Linked DNA regions of Homo sapiens: region 1 is reported to be linked to region 2. Evidence: microRNA targets listed by miRTarBase, many of them from high-throughput screens and not tested one by one. Region 2 holds a microRNA gene; the other region holds the end of a gene's coding sequence.

Region 1 (3,571 bases), not on the chromosome of region 2:
CCCATTCTGTATTCCTAATCCAGTCTCAGCACTTTATTCATACAAAATAATCAAAATAGGTTTTCTACACCAAATGCTACCCAGGCAGTGCTCTATAATTTATTTGCACACCTGTATGTGTGGTGCCACGTTAGCCACTAAATCTGAACTTTTACCCTGCTTTCATCATGGATTTTTTTGTGTAACCTGAAACAAGTCACCAGTGCTCACTGTGCCTGTTTCCTCATTTGCAACAAGAGGATAATTCCGACCTACCTCTGAAAAATGTGTAGATTAAATGAGTTTTTAAAGCACTTTAGAAAATATAAGGGAGAAAATGATTTCTTAAGATATCACTGCCTAATATAGACAGGTATATTTGAAAGCTAAATACAGGTTAATGCTTTTGATAATGTATTGTTCCTGTTGCAAATTTAAGCATTATATATTAGGAGACTAAACATTGAAAACTTTCACTGATTTTTAAATTGGAGTAATAGCCTAAATAAGTGTAAATAATCTTTATCAAAATTTAGTGTTTATCTACAAAGATGCGAATCAGTCAAGGGGAAATGTGTATGCAATGTGTGTGTATATGATGTATGCGAACATATGTGATTTTGGGGTACTAAAGCACAAAAAAATCCCCCATAAAATAAACCTTCCTGAAAAGACTGATCATAAACTTTTTCACTCCAAGCAGATGTGAATCAAGATGTTAGGTTTATGGTGAGTTAGCTTTGAGGTGTGTTGCCCTAATACTAGCCAGCGTTGTTGTAGCCATATTCCCTGCTGCTGCACGCCGAATTGAAAATCCATCTCTTACCTCTTCTCTATGAAGCAAGCCAGGTATGTCTTGCTTAAGTATTTCTTCTCCATGAATGGCCTTAACATTATTTTGTATTCACGTGTACTGTTTAACTGAGGGTCTCAAAGCACTTTAAACTGTTGTGTTCTATTTCCACTCGTCTGGCCTGCCTCATTTTTCTAGGCCCTTTTGTAAGCTGTAATTTTTTATTACCACTCATGTTCTTTCTACACTGACACTATTCATTAAGAACATCAAGCTTCATCTCTGCTTACAGAATCTCACCTTATTGAGTGGGTTCCACTTTATTTTTCATTTGTTATCTACATTTTGAAGGGTTTATGTGCAAAGTGAAAACAAATTTTGAAAAATAAGACAAATCCATTCTCTTCTTCAATTCAGTCTAATATGCATTGTAGTGTCTTTTAATCAGTCTTATCCTCTAAGTCAACTTCATTTTCCTCTTCGTGAATACCCATAGCAATATGTAAGATTTTATTGAAGTTTCCTGTGATAACTGAGGAATACTTTGCTATGCCTCACTGCCCAATAGGGTGGGTCATCAATTAGGAGAAATCCCAAATTATAAAAGCCAACATATGCCGTGACCTACGTAGGAAAAGATGTATTTGTGCATCTTCTTTCTGGGTAGTTAAAAATTACTCCCTCTTTTCTCTAGCATTTTGACATTTCAGACTCAATGCTCTGATCTCTAGGGAGTGTGATTATTCAAACTAATGAGAGGACAAGAAGACACAGTTTTAGAATCTACTGCTGCTAAAGCACATTAAAAACAAATCCTGGTTTTTAATGTATGCATAGTTTCATATTTAATGAATATGCTTTCATTAAATAGGGAGGTAGATTTGAAAAAACCGTTATAAAGAAATGTGCCTTTTGGGGAATGAATACTTTTGTTCATGTCTAGCCCACTGGGAATTTTGTTTTCACCTTATACTGAGTCCTTTTTCTAATGTAAAAATATTTCTTCCAAGTTTGATTTCTGTATCAGGGTAACATTGAGAACACACATATTTCTGTTTGAGGATTTGTGACTTCCTATGGAAACAGTCTTGCATCTATGTATTTACAAATGAAATTTAAAGTATTCTTAAAGCTTTGCCTTAAATACTGCTTGCATACTGATTTACTTAATGCTAAGCATGGCAGGGGTTATAAATTTAAATACTATAAGACCTGGCTGAATCCCAGATGTATCAATAAATTGTTATAGTAGCTTATGGAAAATGCTATTAAAGATAAATTTTCATACATTGTATTTTTAGTCAAGTAAAATATGGATGAAAATTAATAAAGTACTGTCAAGGGAAAAAATATGTATAACCTTGTAAGTGATTTTTCTCCCCTTTATTAAAAAAAGATTATACAATTTGGGCTCATATTAAAAAATTCAAACAGTAGAACAGTGTGTACGTAGAAGGCATTCCCCACTCCCACTCCAGGAGTTTGGGTATCATTCTAGAAGTGTTCTGTCAATACATAAGCATTTTTCATTCAAACACACACACACACACACGGGATCCCATATTCTATAATTTTTGTGTTTTAAAAAACCACCATATTTCATAGATATCTTTCCACTTAAGCACATTCGGAGCTCCATCATTTTTTTTTTTTTTTGAGACAGAGTTTTGCTCTTGTTGCCCAGGCTGGAGTGCAATGGCGCTATCTCAGCTCACTGCAACCTCTGCCTCCCGGGTTCAAGCAATTCTCCTGCCTCGGCCTCCCAAGTAGCTGGGATTACAGGCATGCACCACCATGCCCAGCTAATTTTGTGTTCTTAGTAGAGACAGGGTTTCTCCATATTGGTCAGGCTTGGTCTCAAACTCCCGATCTCAGGTGATCTGCCCGCCTCAGCCTCCCAAAGTGCTGGGATTACAGGCAAGAGCCACCGCGCCCAGCACGGTCTTTTCAAAGACCAGATAATTTATTTAACCAACTGTCTAAAGATGGACATTGTGATTGATCACACTATTTTATATATAACATTGAATGGAGTGGGTGAGTCCTAAGAAACATTCTCTCCTAAAAGTTTACATTTTTCATTGACTAGAAGTGACCAAAATAGATTCTACTGATGAGAAAAGACTTTTGAAAGCAGTATGGTCAGGTTGGCAGGTGAATGGCCTCAAGAGCTTAGGATTTCGTTGCTACTAAAAGAACAAGACTATTCAGTTGTGAAACAATGATTTAGTCAAATACTGATGCTGTCTCAGATGAGTAACTGCAAATCACTTCAAAAGGTAGAAGGGTAGCTTAAATGTGAAAAAGGTTACTGCCACTTCATGTAGGGAAGATAACAAGCATTTGCAAATAGCAAAATAGAAAGAAATAAATGGTTTCAGTACAAGCTCTTATATTCACTTGGCATCAAAATAGTCCAAAATAAATCTGAGAACCACGGCAAGTTATAGCTGTGTTAATGACAAAATGTGATATTTACTGTTTAAATTTAGCAGCTGGGAGAATCCCCTTATAAGGAAGACAGAAAATACGTTTATATCCAGACTGCATTACTCTTTGGAAAAATATGACCAATCAGATTTTGGGTATTATTGTTACAACCTTTTCCTTCACCTCTGCATCATGGTGATCAACTAAAGCTCTTATTTTCTGGGCACATTCTTCTCCATGTAACAGGAAAAACAATGAACCTTCAGTGAAAGTAGGCTGCACAGCTAAATGGCCTTCTATTTTGAGGCAGTTCTTTATATTCTGAAATAGCGTAAGTACTCGAAGAAGAATCTCCTTTGCTACGTGGCT
Region 2 (3,000 bases):
CTTAGAACCTTCTTACCCAGAAATGAGTTATTCACCTAAGTTTTCTTCATTTATTGTTTAGTGTTTTCTACTTTTTAATATTTTCTTTTGGTTTTTATTTTGGTGTCTGACATGGGGGAGAATCTACACTAAATATTACATTATTATTATATTAGATTACATACAGATTATAATAATTGGATGTAATTGATTAGATTAAATAGGTTTTTGCACACTGAATAAGTAGCTTCCCCATTGGCCTCATTGCTTCCTTTATCACATCATATTTTATTCTTTAATTTACCAGTATCTGTTTCTGGGCTACTTTGTCCTGGAGTCTTGTGCCCATATTGCATGGCCTTAAATACTGTAGCTTTATAATATGTTATAAAATCTGGTAAGCCAAATCTGGCTTATTATACTTATGTTTTTCAAAATTTTCTTATTCTTCCAGAAGTTATATTTGATTTTGATGGGAATCATGTTGATCCTATTTTGACTTTAAAATAGTCAGTCTTTCCATCTGGGAATTCAAATGGAGAATACTTAGGAATCTTGTAGGCCAGGCGTGGTGGCTCACACCTGTAATCCCAGCACTTTGGGAGGCTGAGGCGAGTGGATCACCTGAGGTCAGGAGTTTGCGACCAGCCTGGCCAACAGGGTGAAACCCCGTCTCTACTAAAAATACAAAAATTAGCTGGGTGTGGTGGTGGGCGCCTGTAATCCCAGCTACTCGGGAGGCTGAGGCAGGAGAATCACTTGAACCTGGGAGGCTGAGGTTGCAGTGAGCCGAGATTGTGCCATTGCACTCCAGCCTGGGCAACAAGAGCAAAACTCCGTCTTAAAAAAAAAAAAAGAAAAGAAAAGAAAAAGAAAGAAAGGAAAAAAGAATCTTGTTTTGCAGGCAAGATACAGAAGCTCAGAGGAGGGAAGCAGGGGCCCAGGTCTCCTGACTCCCTCTCCAGTGTGTTCTACACTCACCCTGCTGCCCATCTTTCTCCCCACTGGAGGCAAACTCCGTGTCCAACCTGAGGCTCCAGTCCCCTGTGACCACCAACCGGCCCCTGGTTGTGGGGTGCTGGGGCCTGTCCCCTGCTTACCAGGCGGGCAGTTCTCTAGCAGATGGACAGTGAGGGTGGCAGGGCTAAAGGTGGGCCGGTTGTCATTGTCATCCAGGATGGTGATGAGCAGGTGGGCCGTGCTGTTGAGCAGCCCGATGTCCTCAGCCAGCAGCAGCAGCTCCAGGATGGGTGGCGAGAATGCCTCCCGGTCAATGATGACACCTGACCTCACGGTCACCACACCTGGCACCCGGTGCCGCCAGCCAGGGAAACACACAGAAAAGGGGTGCGGTGGGAAGACAGGGCAAGAACCAACAGGGAGAGAGCAGAGAAAGACAGGGGCACCATGGGACAGAGATGAAAGAGGAGCAGAGGCAGTAACAAAATGACTTTCTCCCCCACAGGCTCAACCACCCGTGCTGAGGGAGGGCCCCATGCATTTCCTGTGGTTGTCCCCTCTGCAGGTGCCCTCTGCTGTCTTCAAGACTCTTGCCTGGGAAGAGTGACCCAGGGCACAGGGTTGACCGTCTCTGTTGACAGATGTGCTTTCCTGTCGGCACCTGTCACCAAAGCGGCCTCCTGTCCAGGACCAGACGGATGTGGCATGGTCTGGTTGGAGGACAGGAAAGTCGCTCTGGCTACTTCTGCTGGACTAGGGGCCTGAGCCTCTGGCCTGCGCATGGGGAGATGACGGGAGTGGGCTGGGGGGCTCCCGGCCCAGGCTGAGAGTTCGTGCACCAACAGAGGTCCTGTGTATCGTCTCCAAGCCTCTTCCCACGTCCCCCTGCCAGGCCACTGGGTGATATAACCCAGCTGCAAGATGGGGACTCTGGGCTGTGAAAAATGGGGTCTCCACGGACAGCCTGGGTCCAGCACTGAGAAGGGAGGCCCTCAATCCAGCAGTGTGGCCATCCCCACCCCAGAATCAGGCTGGGAGTGCTGGGTGGCACAGAGGCCTCACCGGTGCTGCTGTTGATGTCAAAGAGGCCACTCTGGGCACCCAGCAGCTGGTAGGTCACCACGGCGTAGATGTCTTGGTCTGCATCCAGGGCCAGGATGGGCCCATTGAGCACCGTGAGAGGGGTGCCTGGGCCAGAAGGAGAGGGGTCACCACAAGACCAACCCAGCCCCCTGCCCTCCCACCTCCCCTGCCCTGTCCCGGTGAGCCATGGCTGACGATGGATGAGAGGGGAGGGAGGTGAGGTGGACAGGGTGGGGAGGCCCTGGGGGCGGGCCTGCGGCAGCCTTGGCAGACTGAACGCAGATGCCTGGGGAGCGGCCTCAAAGCCCTGCTGGGGAGAAAACATGAGAGTGGTGAGCAAGGCCCCGGCTGCCCAGAGCCACATCTGCCTTCCCAGCAGCCTTTGAGGCTGGCCGCTCCTCGGGAGGGTCTGGGGCTCCCTGACATCCCCTCCCCATGTGTGGGTCTCGCCTGTCAACACATGTGTTCACACAATGCTCTGCCTTTGGGGGCCTGGCCATACATGACTAGAAAAACCCACTCATGTGTGCATCAAGTTCTGTGTTCACATGGCCACAGGCACTTGTCCAGGAGCACGCACAGGCCTGGGATTCCCTGGTTGTGCACTCGTGTGCCTCTGCAGGTGGGCATGTCTGCACACGAGCGCATCAGTGGGCACCCATGTACCTATATGTGTCTGTGCACATGTGTAACCCCACGCACATGCCTTGGTATGGACACACACGGGCACATGTGTGAGCATACACACAGACAGGTTTAAGAATGAAATTCACCTAGGGGGGATGCCCAGCCAGAGATGAGGAACAGGGGCTGGGGAGACTGGAGGAGTGCAGGTGCCACCTCAGGGGACATCACAGAGGAGATTCTGTCCCTCTGGAGGGAGGTGAGCCTGGTCAGTGCATGTGTGTGGGGAGAGGGCTACACTGGCCTACCCAGGACCCCCTGACCTCCCACTTCTAGTTATAGATGCTCCCCAGG

The links. The annotated mature microRNA hsa-miR-7152-5p reads UUUCCUGUCCUCCAACCAGACC and lies in region 2 at 1,647-1,668, opposite strand. An mRNA with a match to its seed (bases 2 to 7 or 8) in the 3' UTR can be bound and repressed. Matches are read on the target gene's strand: a 7mer-m8 pairs with bases 2 to 8, a 7mer-A1 pairs with bases 2 to 7 and ends in A, and an 8mer does both.
Region 1: the mRNA of ARMC10 is a reported target of hsa-miR-7152-5p. The part of its 3' UTR that is shown has no 7-base or 8-base seed match.

The regions. Positions count from the first base shown.
Region 1 is chr7:103,098,329-103,101,899 of GRCh38, reverse strand. It overlaps ARMC10 (armadillo repeat containing 10), which reads right to left. Exons shown (of 7, transcript NM_031905.5): 7 at 2,141-3,571. The coding sequence ends at 3,347. It overlaps NAPEPLD (N-acyl phosphatidylethanolamine phospholipase D), which reads left to right. Exons shown (of 5, transcript NM_001122838.3): 5 at 1-2,124. Among named protein-coding and RNA genes, the nearest start is that of ARMC10, 25 kb to the right of the region's middle.
Region 2 is chr10:71,789,415-71,792,414 of GRCh38, reverse strand. It overlaps MIR7152 (microRNA 7152), which reads right to left and starts at 1,668; the gene lies at 1,615-1,668. CDH23 (cadherin related 23) reads right to left here. Exons shown (of 70, transcript NM_022124.6): 46 at 2,002-2,127; 47 at 1,080-1,283. RefSeq lists an enhancer at 1,228-2,127.